Regions from separate parts of the Homo sapiens genome. Here all the other regions are linked to region 2. Evidence: fine-mapped expression QTL. A gene starts in region 2. Each other region holds a variant in brackets. All regions are shown on one strand. Distances are between the middles of the regions.

Region 1 (5,000 bases), 44 kb after region 2:
CTTCAAAAAGAAGGTCCAAGTTTCCACCTGGTGGGCAGCAGGGCCAGCAGGCCACCAGGTGGATGGATACTGGATGATTGGGAGGGGACAGATGGGTGGATAAAGGGTTACTTGGGTGGATAAGGGGCTGGGCAGGCAGTTAAGAGGGACCCAGATGGGGTGATGAGGTATAGAAGTAAGAAGAGGAATGAAGGCAGGAGGCAGCGTGGCTGGGTGGTGTGGTGGTAGAGGAAGGAGTTGCAGCTTTCTTTGGGTAAAATATTGATAGCAATCCCTGCTCTGCCTGCCTCACAGGGTTACTGTCAATCAAATAGGATAGGAATGGATACAAATGTGCCTTCAAGATGCTATTATTGTTGTCGTTAATATTAGTAACAACCCTTGGCCCTGACTTCTCTCTGGGTGGGGTGTCACCCACCAGTACCGCACCAAGACCACCCCAGTTGTCAAGTCCCCCAAGGTGGCACCAGAGGAGGCCCCTCCTCGGCGGATCCTCATCTACGGGGTCCAGGAGGAGAATGGCTCCCATGTGCAGAACTTCGCCCTGGACCTGACCCCGCCGCCCGAGGTCGTTTACAAGTCAGAGCCGGGCACCAGCGATGGCATGAATGTGCTGGGCATCGTCTTCTTCTCTGCCACCATGGGTATGTGCTGCCCACCTGCCCAGCAGTGCCGTGGAGCCGGGCCCCCAGCCCCTCCCAGCAGCCTGCTCCTCCACCTCTTACTGAGGTCTGGGGAGAATGCTGGAGAGGTTTACTGTGAAAAACTGGAAATATTCACCACACCTGTTTATTTAAATCCTTCGCCTCCCCACCCCACCCCAGGGGCTTCCCCCTGGCACCTCCCCCTCAGGCCCGTCTGGGCCATTTCTTAGGCCCGCAGCTGGCATCCCTGCCACACCCTTCCCTTTGCTGCCCTCCTCTGGGATGCCAGGCCCCTCACCTATGCAAGCCCCTTGGAGGCCCGCACCTTGGTTTTTAAATTTTGTGTTATTTTTCTTAAAGATGGGTCCCAAATTATACAAGCTTCAGACCCCACAAAGCCTGTGGAAATGTCCTGCCTGCCATCCCCGACTCCTCCACTGGGTTTTCTTGTCAAGGAAAAGACCTCACCAACCTCGTTCATGCAAAAACTCTAGGGGTGACTTTCTACCTCGTCCTCTGCCTTGGCCCCCACCTTTGCATCCGGTCGGGTCTGCCCCCAAAGTCCCCTCCAAGCCGTGCGTTTCCTTCTACCCCGCGTCACTGCCCGGGTCAAGGCCGTGTGGTCTCTCGCCTGGTTCCTGTGAAAGCTGCCTAGAAAACTTCCACGGCTGTCCCTGCTGGTGTGTCCAGCTCAGGAGGTCACAAGTCTGACCGTGCTCTGCCCATTGCCCCTGGAAAGGGGCCGAACCCCTAGTGCCGGCTGAAAAGCCCCGTGAGACTGGCCCGTGTGCTCCTCTCCGCACAACCCTCAGCCCGGCTGCTCTTGCCACTCCCCCTCCACGTTTGTCATCTTCAGGGTGCTCCCCACAAGTGCCATGCCCTCAGGAGAGTCCTCCGCAGACTAGGCCGAGTGCCCCGAGCTACACTGCCTGGTTACTCTGTGAGCACTAGACTCGATTGCAAGGATATCATTGCTTGCTGTCTGCACAGCCATGACCAGCCCCATACAGGCTGACGGGCTTGTCTCCATCCACCCCAGAGCCCACCGCTGCCGTGGCTACAGCAGGCACTCAGCAGACCTGGTAGGGAGATGGGTGGACGGCTGGGTGACAATGGGTAATGGAGCTCTTCTCATCTGGGCCAAAACGCCAGGTGTGCAGAGGGGCCGGGGCCTCGGTGACCCAAGTGTGTGAAACGAAAATGTCTGAAAGTGCCTCTCGGCACATCTGACAAGCAGTCCCCAAACTCAGCCTTTCTCAGGGCTGGGAACATAAGAGAAGGGCATCTACTGGCAGAACAAAAGAACCGGAGACCCTTGGACTCAACTCGCTGAGCGTTCGCTGCGCATGTGTAACTGTCCGTGCATCTGTGAACATTTGTGTGAGTGTACTGAGGCAGGTCGTATGAGGGTACCGAGGCAGGGCGTGTGAGTGTACTGAGGTGGGACATGTGAGTGTACCAAGACAAAGAGTGTGAGTGTACCGAGGCGGGCGTGTGAGTGTACTGAGTGTGCGTGTGAGTGTACCGAGGCGGTGTGTAAGTGTACCAAGGTAGGGTGTGTGAGTGTACCGAGGCAGGGTGTGTGAGTGTACTGAGGCAGGGTGTATGAGTGTACTGACACTGTGTGAGTGTACCAAGCTGGTGTGAGTGTACCGAGACATGGTTTGTGAGTGTACCAAGATGAGGAGTGTGAGTGTACCGAGGCAAGGTGTGTGAGTGTACTGAGGTGGGGTGTGTGAGTGTACTGAGGCGGGTTGTGTGAGTGTACCGAGTAGGCATGGGTGTACC[G/A]AGGCAGGGTGAGTGAGTGTGACGAGTCAGGGTGAGTGTACTGAGGCAGGGTGTGTGAGTGTACCGAGGTGGTGTGTGTGGGTGTTTCGAGGTGGTGTGAGTGTACCGTTGTGAGATGTGTGAGTGTCCTGAGGCAGTGTGAGTGTAACAAGGCAGTGTGTGTGAGTGTAATGGGGCAGTGTGTGTGAGTGTACCAAAGCGGGGTGTGCGAGTGTACCGAGGAGGGGTGTGTGAGTGTACCGAGGTGGGGTGTGCGAGTGTACCGAGGTGGGGTGTGCGAGTGTACCGAGGTGGGGTGTGTGAGTGTACCGAGGCAGTGCGTGTGGGTATGTGAGTGTACCAAGGCAGTGTGAGAGTACCAAGACGATTTGTGTGAGTGTTCCGAGGCAGGGTGTGTAAGTGTACTGAGGCGGGGTGTGTGAGTGTACTGCGGCAGTGTGTGTGAGTGTAACGAGGTGGTGTGTGTGAGTGTACCAAGGTGGTGTGTGTGAGTGTACCGAGGCGGGTTTTGTGAATGTACCAAGGTGGGGTGTGTGAGTGGACAAAGGCAGGGTATCTGAGTGGACTGAGGTGGTGTGTGTGAGTGGACCAAGGTGCGGTGTGGGAGTGTACCGGTGCAGGGTGTGTGAGTGGACTGAGGTGGGGTGTGTGAATGTATTGAGGCAGTCTGAGTGTACCAAGGCAAAGTGTGTGAGTGTACTGAGGCGGGGTATGGCAGTGTACCGAGGTGATGTGAGTGTACTGAGGCGGGTGTGTGAGCGTACTGAAGCAAAGTGTGTGAGTATACCAAGGCAGTGTGTGAGTGTACCAAGGCAATGTGTGTGAGTGTACCGAGGTGGTATGTATGAGTGTACACAGGCAAGGCATGTGAGTGTACCGAGGCAAGTCGTGTGAGTGTACCGAGGAAAGGTGTGTGAGTGTACCGAGACGGGTTGTGTGAGTGTACCGAGGCAGGTTGTGTGAGTGTACTGAGGTGGTATGTGTATGTGTATTGAGGCAGTGTGTGTGAGTATACCAAGGTTGGGTGTGCGAGTGTACCGAGGTGGTGTGTGTGAATGTACCGAGGCAGCGTTTGTGAGTGCACCAAGGCAGTGTGTATGAGTGGACCGAGGTGGGACGTGTGAGTGTACTGAAACAAGACGTGTGAGTGTACTGAGGCGGGGTGTGTGAGTGTACCGAGGTGGGGCGTGTGAGTGTACTGAGTTGGGTTGTGTGAGTGTACTGAGGCGGGGTGTGTATGTGTACTGAGGCGGTGTGTGTGAGTGTACCAAGGTTGGGTGTGCAAGTGTACCGAGGCGGTGCGTGTGAGTGTAGCGAGGCAGGTTGTATGAGTGTACCAAGGTGGGGTGTGTGAGTATACCAAGGTGGGGTGTGTGAATGTACTGAGGTGGTGTGTGTGGGTGTATGTGGATGTGTGAGTGTTCTGAGGCGGGGTGTATGAGTGTGTCGAGGTGGTGTATGTGAAGGTATCAAGGTGGGGGTGTGTGAGTGTACAGAGAGGCAAGGTGTGTGTGTACCAAGGTGGTGTGAGTGTACCAAGACAAGGTGTGTGAGTGTACTCAGATGGAGTGTGTGAGTGTACTGAGATGGTGTGAGTATAACGAGGTGGTGTGGTGTGTGAATGTACAGAGGCATGGTTTCTGAGTGTACTGAGTTGGGGTGTGTGAATGTACCAAGGCAATGCGAGTGTACCAAGGTGGTATGTGTGAGTGTACTGAGGCAGGGTGTGTGAGTGTACCAAGGTGGGGTGTGTAAGTGTACCGAGATGGTGTGTGTGTGTACTGAGACAGGGTGTGTGCCAAGGTAAGGTGTGTGTGTAACAAGGAGGGGTGTGAGTGTACCGAGGTGGTGTGTGTGAGTGTACCGAGGCAGTGTGAGTGTACTGAGGCAAGGTGTGTGAGTGTACTCAGACGGGGTGTGTGAGTGTACCAAGGTGGTGTGAGTATACTGAGGCAATGGGTATGAGTGTACTGAGGTGGTATGTGTCAGTGTACCGAGGCAAAGTGAGGGTATTGTGGTGGGGTGTGTGAGTGTACCAAGGTGGTGTGAGTGAGTGTACTGAGGCGGTTGAGTGTACTGAGGCGAGGTGTGTGAGTGTACCGAGGCAGGTTGTGTGAGTATACCGAGGCGGGCTGTGTGAGCGTACTGAGGTGGTGTGTGTCAGTCTATCAAGGCAGGGTATGTGTGTGTACCGAGGCGGTATGTGAGGTACTGAGGCAGTGTGAGCGTACCGAGGTGGTGTGTGTCAGTCTATCAAGGCGGGGTATGTGTGTGTACCGAGACGGTATGTGAGGTACTGAGGCAGTGTGAGTGTACCGAGGCGGTGTGTGAGTGTACTGAGGCGGTGTGTATGAGTGTACCAAGGCAGGTTATGTGAGTGTACCAAGACTCTGTGAGTGTACCGAGGCAGCGTGTGTCTGTACCGAGATGGTATGTGTGAGCCTACCGAGGCGGTATGTGTGCATGTACCGAGGCGGGGTGTGTGAGTGTACAGAGGTGGGTTGTGAGTGTACAGAGGCAGGGTGTGAGTGTTTTGAGGCAGTATAAGTGTAATGAGAGGTGGTGTGT
Region 2 (10,553 bases):
TCTTAAAGAAAACGGGATATTAGACTCTTACATCAGTCTTTAACCAGGTTAGTTAATTACCTGTATGAGAAAAGGAAAAGTAAACTACTCTTAGAAATTTACACAGAAGAATAACTTTACTGGAGTGGGAGGTTTTTAAAATAAGACAGAGACAAGTCATAACAAAAAAGAATGATAGATTCAGTTACATTAAAAGTTAGAACTTCTGTTTATCTAAAGACAGATAAGTCATAAACAGGAAAACACATATAAACAATAAAGAGTTAATATCCAGATTATATAAAGAATATTTATAATGTATGTGAAAAGACAAACAACCCAATTAAAAATAGGCAAATGAACAGCAATTTCACCAAAGAGGAGGCATGGATGACTCACAAACATAGGACAATATATTCAGTCTCACTAATCAGGGAAATGCAAATTTAAACCACTATGGAACACCATTTCACACCTACCAGATTGGCAAGAGTTAAAAATTAATCAATATCAAATGTCAGTAACCATGCGGAACAATGGGAACTTACAGACATTGTGGGTGAACATATTAGTTGGTAAAACTAATTTGGAAACAGTTATTACCTACTAACGTTGACCATCTGCATAATCTGTGACCTAGCAATTCTATTGCTACGTATATATCCTAGAGAAACTCTTGTACATGTACATTAGTATTCAAGAATGTTTCTAGCAGCGTTGTTAAAATGATGGTCAAAAACTGGAAAAAAAAACCACAAACGTTCATAAACAGTATCTTATATATAATATTCCATTCATATCATGGAATGCTATATCACAGAGAAGAAAATTAACATTTTTTCAACAACATTGATGAATCAACAACTCAACAACATTGGTGAATCCTGTGCACTCTGTGGGTGAGGCCCCAGGTGCCTGCTGCCATAAAGGGCCGAGGCAGACATCAGAGAAGAAGACAAGCAACAAGGAACCTCGAGCCACTGACCCTAAGTTCTAGAGCAGCCTCACTGGATATAAGATGTTAGGCATTTTACACAAGAAAGAACAGAAAACCAAGGTTTTACTAAGCAAGCCATGCCAAGAGCTGAGTGCCTGGGACAATGTACTAGATATTTTGCTGTGTCTGCCTCATGTATCCACTTTTCTAACTGCTACTACACACATCTACAGAGTTACCATAGAAGCAGCAACTGTAAATAATGTGACCCTGCTCCCTGCCCCTACTGGCTGCAGGAGATTGGTCTAAACTGGGCCAGTCAGAACCTTCCCTGAGAACTGTGGCACTGGAGTGAAACAGAGCTGCTGGTGGCCATGCTTCCTCCCTGTGGACCACAGTAGTAGTGGAGATGGGTTCATTAGAGAAAGAATAATGTAACATAAATGTCATCACCAAATGTAGGCTCTATAAAAGCAGGGATTGTTGTCTATTTCGGTTTATTACAGTATTCCAAGTGTCCGGAATATGTCTGGCACATAGTAATAATAGTAACATAGATATAGATAGATAGATAGATAGTGCTTACTATGATCAGACAACTGTCTTAAGCTTCATACATGTAATTCATTTGCTCCTTATAACAACCCTATAAGGTAGAATATTATTATCCCTACACTCAATATGAGAAAACTAAAACTGGAACACAGAGTAACTTGCCTACAGTTCCAAAAAGAGTAGGTGAAGGAGCTAAGATTCAAACACAAGTCATTTGGTTCCTGAGTTTGTGCTCTTAATCAATACCTTATGCCACCTCTCAACATATATATGTTGAATGAAGAATGAATGGACAAATCAGACATGTAGAAAGGAGAGCTGGTGTGAGAGATAATTCCATTAACAATCAAGTACCTGGTTCAGAGGGTCTTTGCAGTTCAGTTCTGCTCTTGTCCTTGGGTTCTGCAAAACCCATGCTCACCTGGTCTTATAAATGGGACCGGTTTCCTGGTTCTATGATCTGCGCAGTAGCACAGGGCCCCATGCTCAGAAGGGCCCCTGTGCTTGGTTTAATGCTCTGTTGTCACTGTCACTAAATTCTTAATAATTTTATCTTTGAACTTGTGTCTTATAAGCAAAGTCTGATGGGACAATAGAGTATACACACAAACAGAAAAAACACGTCCAATATACATGCCGCCACTGGTAGTTGCCACTCCATCCTCATACAGCGTGTGTAATGTCCCATGAGCACAGAGTTCTGGTAAACTGGCAACGCATGGGAGTTCAGCAAGACTCAAATAGGTGTCAGGTAAGTGTGTTATGTCCACAGCTAAGTAAGCAGAGGCACCAAGACTCACGAGAAGCCTCACTTTCCTCAAACCAGAACTTGTTTCGAACATAGGAAGAACAAAAAATTGCATTCTAAAAATGCAAACGACCAAGGAATTTTATCATATCCTTTCTTACTAGTGTTACTCACCTGCATTAGCCAACTACTTAAACACTGAAAGTGATAACATCAACAGCAAGGGAATGAGAGGACCACCAGAGTTCCTTTTCTTTCCAGTTCTTCCTTACTCATCAGTGAGTCAAAGGTAGAGAGGACAGATGGAATGGATATGCATTGAGAAGTGAAATAAAAACAGTTGGATTAGTTTTGTGCAGCATTTCCACCATCTGGCAAAAAATGAAATACACACGCATGTATGAGCTACTAAATACAAACTGTATAACTTTGGTGATTCTGCATGTGAGTTAAATGCTCTTATATTTGCATTTAAAACTGGCATTGCACAGTGAGTGTGAAGATGAAGGGCCGGACACGGTGGCTCATGCTTGTAATCACAGCACTTTGGGAGGCCAAGGTGGGCGGATCACTTGAGGTCAGGAGTTCGAGACCAGCCTGACCAACATGGTGAAACCCCATCTCTACTAAAAATACAAAAATTAGCCGGGCGTGGTGGTGTGCGCCTGTAATCCCAGCTACTCAGGAGTCTGAGGCAGGAGATTCTCTTTAACCCAGGAGGCAGAGGTTGCAGTGAGCTGAGATCAAGCCACAGAACTCCAGCCTGGGTGACAGAGTAAGACTCCAGCTCAAAAAAAAAAAAAAAAAAAAAAGGTGAATGATAAAGTTAATGCTACTAATTTAAAATTGTTATTTTTATTTACTTAAGAATGACAAAATCACAAATAAAAAACATCATGATAAGTTGAGAGAGAGAAACTGTGGAAGAAATAAAGCTATATATTTTAGTACCTTTGATGCACTTTTTTCCTGCTTTTGGAAAGAAGAGCCCCACGTGCTCATTTTGCAGTGGGCCTCACAAATTACACAGTCAGCCCTGCTTATAAATTCCCTTTTAACCAAAGCCAGCTTGATTTAGTTTCCTAGTATTTATTAACAAAAATCCTAACTAATTTGGAAACCTAATCTAAACTGGCTGGAGGGTTTAACTTTATACTTTGTCCTAACTTTTATATGCAAATGAGAGGAAGTATGATGCAATGGAAAGTGCATGGGCTTTTATAGGCACAGAAAAGAGGCTCTGAGAGGTTCGCTAACTTCGGCAAAGTCGCACACCTTCCAAGCCAAAGGCTGAGCTTTGAATTTGGTTCAGGGTGACTGTAGAGAGTTCAGTAGAACTTTCTGTGATCATGGAAACGTTCTCTAACTGTGCTGTCCAACATGGTAGCTACTGGCCACATACAGCTATTGAGCCCTTGAAATGTGGCTAGTGCAACGGAGGGACTGAATTCTAAACTATATAAATTTTTTTTTGAGACAGGATCCTACACTGTTGCCCAGCATAGAGTGCAGTTCCATCACGGCTCACTGCAACTTCAAATTCCCAGGCTTCAAATGATCCTTTCACTTCAGCCTGCGAAGTACCTGAGACCACAGGCACACACGACCATGCCCAGTGAATTTTTAAAATTATTTGTATAAGCAGGGTCTCCCCATGTTGCCCAGGCTGGTCTGAAACTCCCGGGCTCAAGCCATCTTCCCACCTCAGCCTCCCAAAGTGCTGGGATTACAGGCATGAACCTCTGGGCCTGGTCCTATTTAATTTTGATTAATTTCAATTTAAGTAGTGTAATGGATGCTATGTAATTGTACTGCACAGACTTAGAGCCCCCAGGCTTGACTGACCCAGTGAATGTGGAGGGGTCCCTGGCTCCCCCTGGTCAGGGCCCTTCTAGGTGAAGGTGTCAGAGTACCCAGCCAGAGCCTGGTACACAGTCGGTGCTCAACACAGAGCGGCTCAGGGGCTTATGGGCGCCCAGGCCTCATTTCCATTAAGTGACAGATTTAGACGGGGGACTGGAAGGGAAAAAGGAAGGCGTGTGTCTGAGTTGCCACCACAGAGTCACTTTCTCCCATCCTCTGAGGCAAATGTGGGAAAGGACTAGCCCTCAGCGAGGTCAGGACAGCCCCTCGGTGACTAAAGCTCGCAGGAATCCACACCCAGCTGGATCAGCTGCATTTGTTGCCCACAGAAAACCTTCCCGGAAGGGCCCAGCTTCCAGCGAGCTGGGAAGACGTGTCAGGGAGATTAAGGCGCCTCTGGTATGTCTCTGGAAAGCAGCCAACATACCCCGAGCTGTCGTCACGACAGACCCAGATGGGAGCTCACCCGGCCAGACCTAAACTCATTTTGACACATGGTGGAAGGTGTAAGGCCCCAGCCCCGATGGCCACTGCAGCCCACCGATGCACTGCTAGCCCTGGGAGGCCCTGCTGTCACGCCTCCGGCCTAAATCAGACTGTCGTCTCCCCTCTCCCTTGACCAGCACCCCCTTCCCTGGCTTATTGAGGCCTCTGCCTAAACCACGTCTCCTCTGGGAAGCCTTCCTATCCCCGCCTTCCCAGGCTGGGTTGGCCCTGCCTGTAGCCCTGGCGAATCATTAATCATTAATCATTAGCAAATAAGTCAACCCCTGCTGCTCTCCCCACAGCATAACCCAAGCAGAGGGCCCGGTGAAGAACAGCTCAACTGCACACCTGCTTCTGCAGGGTGAGGCAGCTGCACCTGTGACTTGGCGTTCATTTTCGCCAACACCATGTCTCTTCTTTGCCATAGCATCTCAGTCTGTCCAGCTCAAGCCTCCCCAGAAGCATCTCTGAGGCCGCCTGCTGCCCATTATACAACACCTTGCTCCTCAGGCTATCCCTAGCACCCCGCTGCCCCTGCCAATATACCCTCCAACTTTGAGGATTCTCCATTGAGGTGATTTCAAATGACATGGTAACAAACAGAGATTTGATTTTATTTTCATAGATTCTTATTTCCTTGTCAGAGCCACTTAAAAGGGAGCTAGGTGAATCCCCAGCTGGTGACTGTGAAGGGCCTGAGTTAGAGTGAGAAAAAGAGAAGGTATTGTATCTAGGGTAATCAGGGAAGGCTTCGAAGAAGAGGGGGATTTAACCTGTAACTTTCGTGACAAGGAAGGACATTCTAGGCCAAGGAAATAGCACAGGCAAAGGTGCAGAAGCCTGAGACAGGATGCAGCGTTCCAGGACCCTGCAGTGGTTTGGTGTCATAGGAGCTGGAGGGGTGACGGAAGGAGTAGGAGGTAATGCTGAAAGGGTGAGGAAAAGGGTGAAAGTGCCTTGCAGGGGAGCATAGACTCGATGCTGCAGACCGGGGTTTCCCAGGCGTGTTCTCCAAACACCAGGCCCAGGGAGTTCTCTGCTCCAGAGGAGGGGTGGGATTCTCTATTCTCCACTTGGTGACTTCCTCCGACACAGCCGCTACTGTAAAGACTTTCATAGTAACTACCTGGGGCTATCTGCAAGGCACTGGGCCACGCTCTAACCATGGCGCATGCAGCACTGTATGACCCACATCAAAACCCTATGATCTAGGTACTGTTGCATTATCCCCATTTTACAGGGAAGTTAAGAAATGTTCCCAAGGTCACACAGCTGGTTGAAGGTAGAGCTGAGGTTTTAACTCTAGCAGTCTGACTTTGAGCTGTCTCAGAGGAAATAACGTGCTTAACTTTTTGTTTCGTCCAGCATTTCCCAAACTTCCTTTTGATGTAATTATGGAAAAATTGTCTTGCACATCTAGTGACATTGTAAAAGGCAGTTGATTCTTTGTCAATGGTGAACTATTATAGGGTTCTGACCCAGGAGACTTGATTTGATTTGCAAATATTCTTAGTAAACTCATTATCAGTCACTTACACTTTAGTGTGAATTAGTCCGTTCTTGGGGTCTCTCCACTTTCTTATAAGCTTCCTGAAGGCAGGGCAGGTACTGTCTGATTCACTGTTGTGTTTCTAGTACCCAGGGGGTGTGGCACACTAAATGGTGCTATAAGAACATTTGCTAGAGTGAGTTGAAATTCTCCTGTTGAAGACCGTAGGAACAGTGGAAAGAATGGCTGTAGTCTGGTAGGCAGGTAGTGGTAGGCTCAGCCTGTGGGAGAGAGGAGTCAGTGGTGGCTATAGGGCACGTCCTGGGAATGGGAGTCATGGAGCTGTGGTAGAAAGCAAGACTCACCTATATCATGGCACAGCTAAAGGCCAGGTCTGGGCTGGGTGTGGTGGCTCATGCCTGCAGTCCCAACACGTTAGGAGGCCAAGATGGGAGGATTGTTTGAGCCCAGGAGTTGATCAAAACCCAAATCCAAATACCTACTTAGCATATTTTCTCTTCTGGGAAGTAACTAACCACCTGATTATTTGGAAAATGAGGCATTTGTTGGAGTTGAAGGTGTAGCAAGAAACTTTTGGTTTTAAGAGTCAAAGTCAGAGGAAAAAAAACTCTCAGACTTGTATTCACCCCCACCCCCCACCCCAAGCTACTGCAAAGAGCAGGGGCTTTGGAAGATTGGTTTGTTGAAATGAAGTTCCTTTGACAAAGGTACCTGGGCCCATTTCTCTCATTCTAAAAAGGACAAGACTGATACCCAGAGACGGCAAGGTCACAGAGCTGATTAAATTGGGATCAGAATCTTCTCAGTCAGGAGCTCTGTCCATGGCTTCAGAGCCTGTGCCCCAGTCCCCTCTCCCCACCTCTCCCCTATGCCCCACTTGGCCCGTCCTCTTCATCCTCTGCCCCTGTCTCCTATGTCAGGAGGAGGAAGCCCCTGTGTGCACCCCACCCTTTACCTCCCACCCTCACTGCAGACTGCACTTCCCATTCCCTGCTGCCTGCTGCCTGACTGCTCCTAATGAGATTACAGATCTCTGGTGAAATAGACGAGGGTTAATTCCCCCAGGCTTTACAGGGCAGGGCAGGCCAGGCCACAAGAAATAGCAAAAAGACACCTATTCTCCAAAGCACTAAGTGTGATAATGACCCTAAGAGTCCGTTCCCCTGTTCAGCACACCAGGGTTCACACTGCGTTTCCAAATACCCTCTGGGTGGAATTTTGTACCAGCCCTAACAAAGTAGATGCTGTTATCATCTCTATTTTACAGATGGAGAAACTGAGGCACAGTGAGATGAAATGCTTGTCTGAGGTCACACAGCTAGTAAGTGGCAGAGCTGGGACCCGAATGTGGGTCTCTTGGGCTCTGTCATCTTTAAAAAATAATAGGCCCAGAGAGCCTGCAGGGTGCCCAGCACCAGGCTTGAAACAGCCCTGAAGCATCTACGTCCCATTTCCCGGTGAGTGGCACAGCCCACCTTTGAACTCAGGTCCCCTGGACTCGAATCTACATTCCCCACAATACTGCCAAGCACCCTTGAACCTATCTGCCTGTTCATGTGGTGGAAACAGACTGGCCTAGCCCTGACTTCTGACCTCTGTGACCATGGCCAAGGGACTGGCTTCTGGGGTCTCAGCCTCCCTTTCTGAAAAATGAAGGTGGGAACCCTGGGATCTTTGGGACAATTCCCTATGATTGGCATAGCTAAGGCAGCCAGCACAGGCCTGGCCCGCAGCACATGCACCCACCCACCTCAGTTTCTTTATCTGTAAAATGGTGATATTAATAGTACTTATTTCTTGGGATTGGTGTTAGGATTAAATATGCCAGTACATGTAACACTCTTCTAGAATGGCACCTGGTGCATAGTAAATGCTTAATTAATGTTGAGGGAAACTGATATCTTACTGTCTTGTTTTTGATTCTTTCTGGAAGGAAGCAGGGGTAAAGATCAAACCAACCAAGCAAATGTTCCTCTTGTTCCTTCCAGTACCTGGTCCACTCAACTGTTTAAGAGGAACGCTTGGCTTTGAGGCCTGAACTCCTAGACCACGTGGTCTGCTCTAATTTCCCAGGCCCTAATCTGCTCCCAGCTCCTAATGATGCAGCTGGTAATAGGATTGTGGCTTCCCTCTAAGGCGGCCACACGGGCATGGCCGTGGGGCTGGCGACTGGTGTTTAGCAACTCCGACCACCTGCCTGCTGAGGGGCTAGAGCCCTCAGCCCAGACCCTGTGCCCCCGGCCGGGCTCTCATGCGTGGAATGGTGCTGTGCCCCTTGCCAGCAGGCCAGGCTCACCATGGTGCCGCATGCCATCTTGGCACGGGGGAGGGACGTGTGCAGGCGGAATGGACTCCTCATCCTGTCTGTGCTGTCTGTCATCGTGGGCTGCCTCCTCGGCTTCTTCTTGAGGACCCGGCGCCTCTCACCACAGGTCAGCCACCCAGAGCATCTCGGGACCCCTGTCCAGGAGGGGCGTGTGGGCCTGAGGGATCTGGGGTCCCGTTCTAGCATCACAGCTCCCTGGTGCCATGACAGTGTGTGAATCCCTCTGCCTCTCTGGGTCCTGGTTTTCTCATCTGTAACATGGGTGTGATAAACACTTTGCAGGACTAGAGGGAAGAACCAGTGATGTGGCTGGGGAGTGATTACAAACCCAGCACCATCAGGTGAGGAGAGGCGAGGGTGCCTCATGATGACAAACACAGGGCCAAGAGCTGTGGCGGGGAAAGAGGGGGGTCTTGTGTGAGTTCAAACAGGCACCAGAGAACACCTCCTAAAGGCTGCTCAAATGACAAGAGATCCAGGAAGCGTGCTCTAGGCAGAGGTGACAGCAGATGCCAGGTGCAGCGGCCGGAGCGCAGAGGCCAGCAGGCCCATAGGTCCCATCGCCACACGTGGGCTTGCGGCAACCATGAGATGCTTTTGGGCAGAAGAGCGACAGGCCAGTTTGGAGCTTGGGAGACCCCTCAGGTGCTGAGTGGAGAGGGGGTGATTCTGGGGCAGGCAGGGGGCCGAGAAGGGGCAGCCTGGGGGAGATGCGGCAGTGCAGACAAAAGGGACAGACGTGAGAACTGTTTTCAAAAGGGGGAGCTTCAGGATGTGGGGGCCGATTGGATGTGGGCTGGGGGACAGGAAGGGGAGCCAGGCCCCGGGTTTCCAGCCTGTGTAACTGCCATGAAGAAGCTGCGTTTCCTGGGAAAGAGCCCCTTTCCCTGTCAGCCCCCATCTCCTACAGGAGAGGGAGGGACATTCCCATGGTGTTAAGGACAAAATCATTCTGCCACTAGTTAAACTGGTAAGGAAGGCTCTATTCAGGACTATTGTGGTAGGGGGGTAGTTATCAAGACCTCCTGGGGAGAGAGATGGGACCCAACCACAAATACAACAAAGATGGCTGGAGATTTATAGCCAGCGAGCAGAGGGAGGGGGTCGGGGACAGAAAATGACTACAGGAGACATCAGGGTAGGGGGATTCTTGTTGAAGGCAGGCCAGGGTGATCAGACATTGATCTGGGATGAGGAATTTGATCCAGTATCAGGATGCTGGAGGGTGAGGGATCCTCACTAAACTGACTTGGCAGGACTTTTGCTACAGCTGGACTATGCAGGCTGAAGACAAGGCCCAAGGACAAAGCCCAGTGGAAAAGAGGGCTCAGAGGAGCCTGTCTAAAGTGTGGTCAAGGAGAGAGGCTTTGTCAATGGGCTCCTGGAAGAGTCCCTATTCCCAGAAAGTCCTCTTCCCGCAGCTCACTAATGTCTAATGCCATCTCTACAACTGGGGTCAGGCATTAGACTTTGTCTTCCATTAAAAGGAAAACACCCACTCCTGGAGAACTGAGCCACGACTATAGTGACCCTGTTAAGCCTCGAGCAGTTATTTAGGAAGAAGCATGGACTCTGGAGGCAGAGAAACCCTGAACTTTGACTCTGCTAGCAAATGGCTAGGCAATATCCTCTCTCCTCCCTGGGCCTCAGTTTCCTTGTCTGTAAAATGGGATGTGGGGCAGTATATGTCTACTAGAATTATTATGAGGAATAAACCAAGGATTCATCAATGCCCAGCATACAGTAGGTGCTTACTACGTGTTACTTCCCCCTCCCTCCCTTATGTACCTGTTAAAGTCCTATCTACATCAGGAACCATCTCATCATCCATAGCTGATGAAAGTAACTGTAACCCCGCTGCTGGCTGCCTGGCTTCAGAGCTGGTTATATGGGTGTCTCTTTCTCCCACCAAGCTGCATATTGCTGAACAACATATGGGTTTGTTTTTTTTTTTAACCAAAACGTGAGCCTAGCCCTGTGTCAGGCACAGAGAGAACGCTCAACTATCTGCTGCATTAAACTGGCAATGGAACAAAAAAATCTGCAATCTGTTCTCTTTAATTTTCCTCAGCAACAAAAATATATCTCCTGCAGGAAGATTATTTTGTGAAAACAAATTGGAATGCCTATTATTAAAAGCCAAACTCAT
Region 3 (10,822 bases), 21 kb before region 2:
CGAGCTTGGAGCTGCAGCAACATTCTTCACTTCCAGGAGGCGCAGGGACCCCTGGCATCATGGTGCTCTCTGGTCTTCAGGGATGGGGATGTGTGCGGCAGCTCAGGCTTAGGCCTCCTCAGATGCACAGGCTGCTTGTAACAAGGGCCCAGCAATGGGTGCCGGAGGCCGAAACCTGTGCACATTCTTTTGTCTGAAAGTCATAATCAGCCAGGCATGCAAAGATGTTGTTCGTAGGGGATTTATTCCAGCCGTGTATATTAGAGCAAAAAATCAGAAACAAACTAAATTTCCAACCCTCAAGGAATAGTCAACTACATTGTGGAACAGTCAGGTAATGTACTATAAAGCAGCCACTAAAAAAGGCATTGGGAAAATTTAATTATTCATCTGAAAAGATGTTCATAATAGATTAAGTTAAAAAGCAGTATATACAATAGCTAGAACATAGACACAATCCAAATGTCCATTGACAGGTGAATGGGTAAGCAAAATGTGATCTATACATACAGTGGAATATTATTCAGACTTAAAAAGGAAGGAAATTCTTTTGTTTTTTTAGACAAGGTCTTATTCTGTCACCCAGGATAGAGTGCAGTGGTGTGATCTTGGCTCACTGCAGCCTCAGCCTCCCAGGCTCAAGTTATTCTCCCACCTCAGTCTCCTAAATAGCTGAGACCACAAGTGTGCCACCACACCCAGCTAATTTTTGTGGGCTTTGTAGAGATGGGGTTTCAGCATGTTGCCCAGGCTGGTCTCAAACTCTTGGACTCAAGGGATCCTCCTACCTTGGCCTTCCGAAGTGGTAGAATTAACAGAAGTGAACCACCATGCCTGGACTCTTTTTTTTTTTTTTTTTAATTAAGAGACAGGTTCTCACTCTGTCACCCAAGCTGGGGTGCAGTGGCGCGATCATAATTCTCTGCAGCCTAAAAGGAAGGAAATCCTGATATATGCTACCGCATGGGCGAACGTTGAGGACATTGTGCTAAGTGAAATATGTCAGCCACATAAGGACAAATATTTTATGATTCTACTTATATGAAGTACGTAGAGTGGTGGCATTCAGAGAAAGTAGAATGATGGTTGCCAGGGGCTGGGAGGAGGGAAAATGGGGAGTTATTGTTTAATAGATGCAGAGTTTCCATTGGAGAATATTTTTAAAGTTCTGGGCCGGGCACGGTGGCTCACACCTGTAATCCCAGCACTTTGGGAGGCTGAGGTAGGTGGATCACTTGAGGTCAGGAGTTCGAAACCAGCCTGGCCAACATGGTGAAACCCCATCTCTACTAAAAATACAAAAATTAACCAGCCGTGGTGGTGCACACCTGTAATCCCAGCTGCTTGGGAGGCTGAGGCAGGACAATCGCTTGAACCAGGGAGGTGGAGGTTGCAGTGGGCCAAGATTGTGCCATTGCACTCCAGCCTGGGCAACAAAGTGAGACTTTGTCTCAAAAGAAAATACAAAAATAAAAAAATAAAAATAAAGTTCTGGAGATGGATGATGGTGATCGTTGCATAACAATTTGAATGCACTCAGTGCCACAGAACTGCATGCTTAAAAATGGATAAAATTGTAAATTGTAAATTTTATGAGAAAGTATTTTTTTTTAATTTCACAATGTATTTTTTTTCTTTGAGACGAAGTCTCGCTCTCTTGCCCAGGCTGGAGTGCAATGAATGGCATGATCTCGGCTCACTGCAACCTCCGCCTCCCGGGTTCAAGTGATTCTCCTGCCTTAGCCTCCTGAGTAGCTGGAATTACAGGCATGCACCACAACACCCCACTAATTTTTGTATTTTTTAGTAGAGACGGGGTTTCACCATGTTGGCCAGGCTGGTTTCGAACTCCTGACCTCAGGTGATTCAACTGCTGCGGCCCCCCAAACTGCTGGGATTACAGGTGTGAGCCACCACGCCTGGCCCACAATGAATTTTTTAAATTGGCAATGATTGTATATATTTACAGGGTACAATGGAATTTTTTGATATATGTATACATTACAGAATAATTAAATCAACCTAATTAAAATATCCATCATGTCACATATTTGCATGTGTGTAGTGTGATTTGATTTTTTATTTTGATTTTTATTAGTGATGGGTACACTAGAATCCCAATCCCCACCATATTGAGCTTTGCCAAAATATTGAACATTGCACACAATAGGGAATTTGTCAGCCCACCCCCACTTTGTAGTTCCTGCTGTCTGTTTTCTCCACCTGTATGTCCATGTGTACCCATTGTTATCTCCCATGTATAACTGAGAACATGGAATATTTGACTTTCTGCTTGTCAGTTAGGTGTAGGGAAAAGAAAGAGAGATCAGACTGTTACTGTGTCTATGTAGAAAGGAAAGACATAAGAGACTCCATTTTGAAAAAGACCTGTATTTTAAACAATTGCTTTGCTGAGATGTTAATTTGTAGCTTTGCCCCAGCCACTTTGCCCCAACCTGGAGCTCACAAAAACACGTGTTGTATGAAATCAAGGTTTAAGGGATCTAGGGCTGTGCAGGATGTGCCTTGTTAACAAAATGTTTACAAGCAATATGCTTGGTAAAAGTCATCGCCGTTCTCTAGTCTCAATAAACCAGGGGAACAGTGCACTGCGGAAAGCCGCAGGGACCTCTGCCCTTGAAAGTGGGGTATTGTCCAAGGTTTCTCCCCATGTGATAGTCTGAAATATGGCCTCATGGGATGAGAAAGACCTGACTGTCCCCCAGCCCGACACCCGTAAAGGGTCTGTGCTGAGATGAATTAATAAAAGAGGAAAGCCTCTTGCAGTTGAGATAGAGGAAGGCCACTGTCTCCTGCCTGCCCCTGGGAACTGAATGTCTTGGTATAAAACCCGATTGTACATTTGTTCAATTCTGACATGAGAGAAAAACCGCCCTATGGTGGGAGGCGAGACATGTTTGCAGCAATGCTGCCTTGTTATTCTTTACTCCACTGAGATGTTTGGGTGGAGAGAAACATAAATCTGGCCTACGTGCACGTCCAATCATAGTACCTTCCCTTGAACTTAATGATGACATAGATTCTATTGCTCACGTGTTTGTTGCTGACTTTCTCCTTATTATCACCCTGCCCTCCTACTACATTCCTTTTTACTGAAATAATGAAGATAATAATCAATAAAAACTGAGGGAACTCAGAGACCGGTGCCGGTGCAGGTCCTTGGTATGCTGAGCGCCGGTCCCTTGGGCCCACTGTTGTTTCTCTGTACTTTGTCTCTGTGTCTTCTTTCTTTTCTAAGTCTCTTATCCCACCTGACTAGAAATACCCACAGGTGTGGAGGGGCAGGCCACCCCTTCACTTAGGATAATGGCCTCCAGTTCCATCCATGTTGCTACAAAGGACATGATTTCATTCTTTTCATGCTGCATAGTATTCCACGGTGTATGTGTACTATATTTTCTTTATCCAGTCAACCACTGGTAGACACTTGGGTTGGTTCCATGATTTTGCTAATTTTCTGTAATGTATATTTTACCACAACAGAAAAGAAAAAAACCAATATGTATGTTTCTGCAAAACAAAAAATTTAGACATAGAAAAATATTTGGGAATATAAACTAAAAAGTTATTTCTCAGGGTTGGATTACGGGGAATTTTCTTTTTTTTTTTCTGAGATGGAGTTTTGTTCTTGTTGCCCAGGCTGGAGTGCAATGGTGCAATCTCAGCTCACCACAACCTCCACCTCCCGGGTTCAAGTGATTCTCCTGCCTCAGCCTCCTGAGTAGCTGGGATTACAGGCATGCACCACCACGCCCAGCTAATTTTTTGTATTTTTAGTAGAAATGGGGTTTTGCTGTGTTGGCCAGCCTGGTCTCAAATTCCTGACCTCAGGCAGTCCACCTGCCTTTGCCTTCCACAGTGCTGGGATTACAGGTGTGAGCCACCGCACCTGGCCTATGGGGTATTTACATTTTTCTTAGTTTTTGACAATGAACATGTATTACTTGCAGCATTCACTTTCTTCATTGAAGGAGATAGGGCAAGATAGGCACAAACTGACTCGGCCTGTCCCCTAATGGGCAGTGGTTGGAAGGAAGAGTGCAGCACCACCTGCATGTGTCAAAACAATCTTCATTACTGGGCAGATACTGATTATCCCTGATGGGACCCCACCTGCCTGGACAGAGAGCCCACACCCATTCTTCCACCTTCACTCATGTGGACACTCAGACAACAGCAAGTCCATGGAGAACCACAGAAGCTGTGAAGTTTCCAGATCTCTCATGAGTCTCACTACTGCCTTGCGCTTTTTCTATCCATTCTCTCCCTTATTCACCTGGACAACATTAGTTCATCGAAACTCAGCCCAGCTGACACCTCCCCCGGGAAGACTTCCCTTACCCTCCGAGCTATGTCTAGAGTCCCGAGCTGTCTCTGTGCAGTACATATCCCACAGACTGAGCTCCTGGAGGCAGGGCCAGAGCTCAGCAGCTGTGCAGCCTCGGTGCCCAGCCCAACGCCCAGCCCAGGCAGGAGCTCGGGTTGGCTGAACTGAACAGAAACTATCTTGTTCCTGAGATGTAGCTAGTTTCTTGATAGAGGTCATCCAGTGCTAGCAGCTCAGTTTCCAACTCCATTTTGAGAATTATGGCCAATAATTTGTTTTCCTAAAGCAAAAAGGAGGTGAATCATAAATCCGAGTGGTTTTTGTTTGGCGGACTTTTTCTTTCTTTCTTTTTTTGTCCTTTTTGAGACAGGGTCTTGCTCTGTCACCCAGGCCAGAGTGCAGTGGTACAATCACAGCTCACTGCAGCCTTGACTTCCCTTATTCAATGTTTAGCCTTTAATGCAAATATCACAAGTGGGTCATTGATTATTTTTAAGGGGAAAGGTAACTTTTTGGCAAGCGACTCATGTCCACACACACCCCATATTTGAATTTCATTTGTCAGTGATTCTTACCTGGACTTGAGCTGCTCAAGAGCTGGGAGCCCACCCACTGCATGCCACGTAGTAGGTCTTCGCCCGTGTGCCAATCATTAGAGACACTGGAGCCCTGAAAGCTGCCGATGTTGCCCTGTTGCCATTGGCTTTCACTCTTTCTTGTGCTCTTGCCACATGCCAGGCATTGTTGCAGGTGCTGAGGAGGCAGCAGGGAACAAATCCTACAAAACACGAGCCCACCCCTCCCACCAAACAACACTTACAAACTCTTACCAGAAGCTGGGCCCCATAGACTCACCCATTTTAAAGAAGAGAAAGAGAGAAAGGAAGGAAAGCCTGCACTGCAGGACTCTGGAACAAGTGTGGATTAGGACCCAGAAGTCTTCAGTTTATTTTGAGCTTTCTGGCTGTGTGACTTTGGGAAATCTACTTGACCTGTCACTACCTCAATTTCCTTATTCATAAAATAGGAATAATGACAATATCTGATAAGATTGAGAGAATTAAATTAAACAT[G/A]TAAAGTGCTTAGAATAATGCCTGGCACATGGTAAACAGCCAGTACAAATTACTATTTATTGCGGTTGCTGTTATTACTAACCCAGAGTAGGTCCTGTAACATCTCAGCTTTAGTTTCTTCTCCTGTAAAGGGAACAATACTAACACCTCCCTCATAGGTAAAAGTCTAATGAGATGAAGCAGGTGAAAGCACTTTATCAACTGGGGTTATAAACTAGGTACTCACAGCCTCCAGCAGCAAGCCACTCAGGGAATCCAGGGAGATAAGGGGTAGGAGGCAGAAGGTGTCCAGGAGTCATGGGGTTTGGGATCAGGAACAAGCAGCTGACTCTCAGCTCCAGCAGTTGTGGTCATGCAGATGTTTCCAATGAAGCCACAAATCCAGATTTTTATGTAAGATCCCTAGTTTTTAAATGTTGGCAATTAAGCCAAGTTTTTGTAAGTCACTTTGAGTGCCAATCAATACAAAGGTGCCGCCAATTCGTGACCTGTTATAAACTTTTACAACTATTACTTAATAAACCAAGGGGGTAAACTACGAACGTAGCTGATGCAATAACTCAACTGAAAAGCCGAAAAATAACTAACATTTCATTCTCCCAGTGGCCCTAAGAGACAGGCATTAGCATCCCCATTTTACAGATGAGGAAACTGACCAGAGATGGAAGGTCACAGAATTGCTGAATGGCCAATGGGGCTGGATGCTGTGACTCTGTGACTCCCTAACCCAGTCTTTTTTCACTCTGACTATGCAGCATGATTGCAGCACAGTGTCCTGAGCCCTCAGGCCCCACAACTTCACTGCAGAACTAAAATGCAGGGGAGCCAGCATCCAGACTCATTGTCCTGCCCTGCTCCACAGCGGGAAAAACCTACATGAAGACCATTAACCGCAACACCAATTTATTTTATTTTTTTGAGACAAGGTCTTGCTCTGTCACCCAGGTTGGAGTGCAGTGGCACAATTACAACTCACCACAGGCTTGACCTCCTGGGCTCAAGAGATCCTCCTGCCTCAGCCTTCCAGGAAGCTGGGACTACAGATGTGCACCACCATGCCCAGCTAATTTTTTGATTTTTTGTAGGGATGGGGTCTCACTGTGTTACCTAGGCTGGTCTTAAACTTCTGAGCTCAAGCAATCCCCCTACCTCAACCTTGCAAAGTGCTGGGATTACAAGCATCAGCCACCATGTCTGCTGTGGGTTTTTGTGTTCCATCATTCAACATCTGAATTGCTCCTTGCCTAAAAGAGCTGCTAGGCCATTAAGGTGTCTTTTCAGCAAGGCTTCCAGATCTGTAGGCAACTGAAAGAGAAAAGAGAGGGAAAGGATGTTAGGGTCTCCAGATCAAAAAGAGCCTCAGAACCAGCCCCCAAAGCAATGTACAAAAATGCAGCAGGGTCTATATACTAATATACTCACTTTATATGCACAATCCAAACCATAAGTCTCTACATAGCTGTGGTTTAGACCAGGGGCTCCCATCACCCTCAACTCAATGCGGGGCCCCACCCCCAAACAATTCACTCAGAACTGGGGATTTGATGGGGATATGGGTATGTTTTAAAAGCTCTCCAGTGACTTACCAAGATCACTGATCTACTGAAGACTAAGAGAATTCATTCATTCCCTTTATTCATTCAACAGCCCTTCCTTCCTTCCTTCCTTCCCTCCCTCCCTCCCTCCTTTCTTTCTTTTTCTTTCTCTCTTTCTTTTCTTTCTTTCTTTCCTTCTCTCTCTCTCTTTCTTTCTCTCTTTCTCTCTTTCTTTCTTTCTTCGGAGATGGAGTCTTGCTCTGTCACTGAAACTGGAGTGCAGTGGCGCGTTCTCGGCTCACTGCAACCTCTGCCTCCCGGGTTCAAGAGATTCCTCTGCCTCAGTCTCCTGAGTAGCTGGGACTACAGGCATACACCACCATGCCAAGCTAATTTTTGTATTTTTAGTAGAGAAAAATACGTGTTGGCCAGGCTGGTCTCGAATTCATGACCTCAAGTGATTCACCCACCTCAGCCTCCCAAAGATTACAGGCGTGAGCCACCACACCTGGCCAAACAGCTATTTCTTGAGTACCTACTACGTGGCAGGCACAATATTAGTGTTGGAAATAGAGGGAAATAGAAGACAATGTCCTTACCCTATTCTAGTTGGGAGAGAAAGTAAAAAAAAAAATAGCATAATTTTAGGTACAATATTAATTGTTGTAAAGAAAAACAAAACAAGCTAAGAAAGTAGGGAGTGACTGAGGAGCAGCTTCTTTTATTGAACATTTTAAACGTTTTTTGAATTAAGCTTATTTTTGAGTAGGTAATAGATTTGCAAGTTTTTAAAAAATCAAAATAGAAAAGATGTACCCTGAGAAGACCTGCTCCAGCCTCTAACTCCATTCCATTTTCTGGCCCAAACTTGGTTCCCTGACTGGCAGCGTCAGCACCCCTGGGAACTTGTTAGAAATGCACATTTTTAGGCAGGGCACGGTGGTTCACGCCCGCAATCCCAGAGCTTTGGGAGGCCAAAGCGGAAGGATTTCTTGAGCCCAGGAGTATGAGCCTGCATTGGGCTAGGATTGCGCCACTGCACTCCAGCCTAGGTGACACAGCAAGATGACACAGCAAGATCCTGTCTCAAAAAATAAAATAAAATAAAATAAAGAAAGAAAGAAAAAAGAAAAAAAAGCAAAAGGAGAAAAAGAAAAGAAATGCAGGTTTTGTGGCTCCACTCCGCACCCACTGAATCAGAAGCTGTAGGAGCGGGAGCCAGTGGTTTGCATTTTAACAAACCCTCCCTGTGATGCTAATCCACGCTGAAGTTTGAGAACCGCTGCTCTCTGTTAATAAACACACATTCCTCTTAGTTTCTAATGTGTCTTTCCAATGTCTCTTTCATAAATACTGGTAACACAGGTGTTTATTCTTGTTTTCTCTTTTCTTACACAATTACTAATCTGCACCATAGTTTTATTACTTAATGTATGCTAGAGATCTTTCCATTTAGGTACAAAGTTTATTATTTTCTATACATCCCTATGAAGTCATCGTGTGGATGTATCACAGACTAACCAATTCCCACTGAATGATCGTAGGTTATTTCCATCTTTTGCTGTTACTATTTGCTATTATGGCAGTTGCTAACCTTGCACATGTGTCATTTCGTGCTTGTGCATATCAGAGGATGAATTCCTAGATGTGAGATGCAGGATCAAAGGGTAAATAAACTTGGAAATGTCATAGATGTTGTCAAATTGCTGCTCCTTAAGGATTCCCATCTACAATGAATGAGAGCATTTTGCTTCACCACAAACTTACCAACAGAATGTGTTGGGATTTTGCCAGTCTGTGAGGTGAAAAGTTGTAGCCTAGTGTACTTTGTTTTGTTTTGTTTTTGAGACAGGGTCTCGCTTTGTCACCAAGGCTGGAGTGCAGTGGTATGATCACTGCTCACTGCAGACTCGACTTTCCAGGCTCAAGAGATCCTTTCACCTTAGTCTCCCGAGTAGCTGGGACTACGAGCACAAATCACCGTGCCCAGTTAATTTTTTATTTTTTTGTGGAGATGAAGTCTCTCTATGTTACCCAGGCTGGTCTTGAACTGCTGGGTTAAAGCAATCCTAGCACTTTGGCATCCCAAAGTGCTGGGATTACAGGTGTGAGACACCTTGCCCAGCCACCTAGTGTAGTTTTAATCTATATTTATTGAATGAAGTTGCCCACCTTTGCATATGTTTAAAGCCATCTGTATTTCTTTGACCGTAAACTACCTTTTTGTGTCTTCTGCTCTTTTTTCTGTGAGATTGAGGTATTAGTTCATTCTCATGCTGCTAATAAAGACATACCTGAGACTGGGTAATTTATAAAGGAAAGAGGTTTAATTGACTCATAGTTCAGCATGGCTGGGGAAGCCTCAGGAAACTTACAATCGTGGCAGAAGAGGAAGCAAACATGTCCTTCTTCACAAGGTGGTAACAAGGAGAAGTGCCGAGCAAAAGGGGGAAAAGCCCCTTATAAAACCATCAGATCTCATGAGAACTCACTCACTGTCATGAGAATAGCATGACGTTGACCACCCCCATGATTAAATTACCTCCCACAATACATGGGGATTATGGGAACTATAATACAATTCAAGATGAGATTTGCGTGGGGACACAGCAAAACCACATCAATTAATAATCTTGTATTTCTTTATTTCTAGAAGCTTTTTATATATTAAGGGAATTAATCCTTGGTGATATGAGCTGCAAATAATTTTTCCCAGTTTGTCTCTTGTTTTTTGACTTATGCTTAAGTAGTTTTTGTTTTGTTTTTTGAGACGGAGTCTCACTCTGTTGCCCAGGCTGGAGTGCAGTGGCATGATCTTGGCTCACTGCAACCTCTGTCTCTCAGGTTCAAGCAATTCTCCTACCTGAGCCTCCCAAGTAGCTGAGATTACAGTAGCACGCCACCACACCCAGCTAATTTTTGTATTTTTAGTAGAGACGGGGTTTCACCATATTGGTCAGGCTGGTCTCAAACTCCTGACCTCGTGATCCACCCACCTTGGCCTCCCAAAGTGCCAGGATTACAGGCATGAGCCACCGTGCCTGGTCACTTAAGTAGTTTTTTAAATTTTGGTTTGACTTTTAATTTTTAATATTGTTTTCTACCTAAAATTTAGTTCTTGAAAATCAGAATTTAGTAACTCATTCAAAATTTATTACAGGGCTGATCAGGGCCTATCAGAAGCAAATGACCAGGCCCCTTCCCTCAAGGAAAAGGCACCCCTTTTTCCTTTCCCCTCCACTCCTCTCTGGGTGGGTACCTGCAACCAGGATGCCATGGTTCCCTGTGGACCAGCCACAGGGAATGGAAATAGTCAGGTGGCTGGGGGAGCACCAGGCTCTCCCCATACTGGCTTTGTGGCCTCAGCTATGTGACCCCTGCCCTGTGGAATCCGAGTGAGCATGTACACAACCCCACTGTGGGAACAGGGAGGGGCCTAGGGCTAGGGGCCTTCTTGCCTTCATAGGACAATACTCTGTGGCCCTGGACCTTTGGCCCAGGCCAGGCTTCCCACACCCCATGTGACTGGCAGCCACGATGCCTGGGCCCCTGCCCTGCTCAGAAGTCATTCAGATGTTCTCATTCTGGTTCAGGGTCCAGCAGACCTCTTTGGCCTCATCTCCAATCTCTGGCCTGAGCTCTCCTCTTGGACTTGAGGGAGGGAACCAGCTTCTCTGCCTGTGGCCCTCAACCACCTTTTCTTCCTATAATCCACCTTATGCATCAACTTTGAAAATTAAAGAAGGTAACAGATACCAAAAGAAAGTTAGTTTTATCTATAATATTTGTATACATATATTTATGTAGTATCCACTCTGTGTCAGGCACAAAGAAAGTAGTATTTTTTTTTGAGCTACATGTTTTCT

Alleles and levels. Positions count from the first base shown, and alleles are read on the strand shown. Sizes are in standard deviations (SD) of each study's normalised expression. Not every link is listed here.
In carriers of allele G in region 3, the expression in left ventricle of the gene that starts at base 8,187 in region 2 tends to be lower than with A alone (small effect, 0.17 SD a copy in GTEx).

What was found. PIP is the estimated chance that this variant, and not a neighbour inherited with it, causes the effect. A credible set is the group of variants that fine-mapping cannot tell apart.
Region 1: its variant is the best candidate, but not a certain one, in a credible set for the expression of SLC1A7 in whole blood (INTERVAL, PIP 0.71).
Region 3: its variant is the best candidate, but not a certain one, in a credible set for the expression of SLC1A7 in left ventricle (GTEx, PIP 0.71).

Annotation. Positions count from the first base shown.
Region 1 is chr1:53,098,990-53,103,989 of GRCh38, reverse strand. SLC1A7 (solute carrier family 1 member 7) reads left to right here. Exons shown (of 11, transcript NM_006671.6): 5 at 422-644. Among named protein-coding and RNA genes, the nearest start is that of PODN, 39 kb to the right of the region's middle. The variant G/A (reference allele first, on the strand shown) is at 2,433.
Region 2 is chr1:53,140,272-53,150,824 of GRCh38, reverse strand. It overlaps SLC1A7 (solute carrier family 1 member 7), which reads left to right and starts at 8,187. Exons shown (of 11, transcript NM_006671.6): 1 at 8,187-8,510. The coding sequence starts at 8,376.
Region 3 is chr1:53,160,733-53,171,554 of GRCh38, reverse strand. No RefSeq gene overlaps it. Among named protein-coding and RNA genes, the nearest start is that of SLC1A7, 24 kb to the right of the region's middle. The variant G/A (reference allele first, on the strand shown) is at 5,422.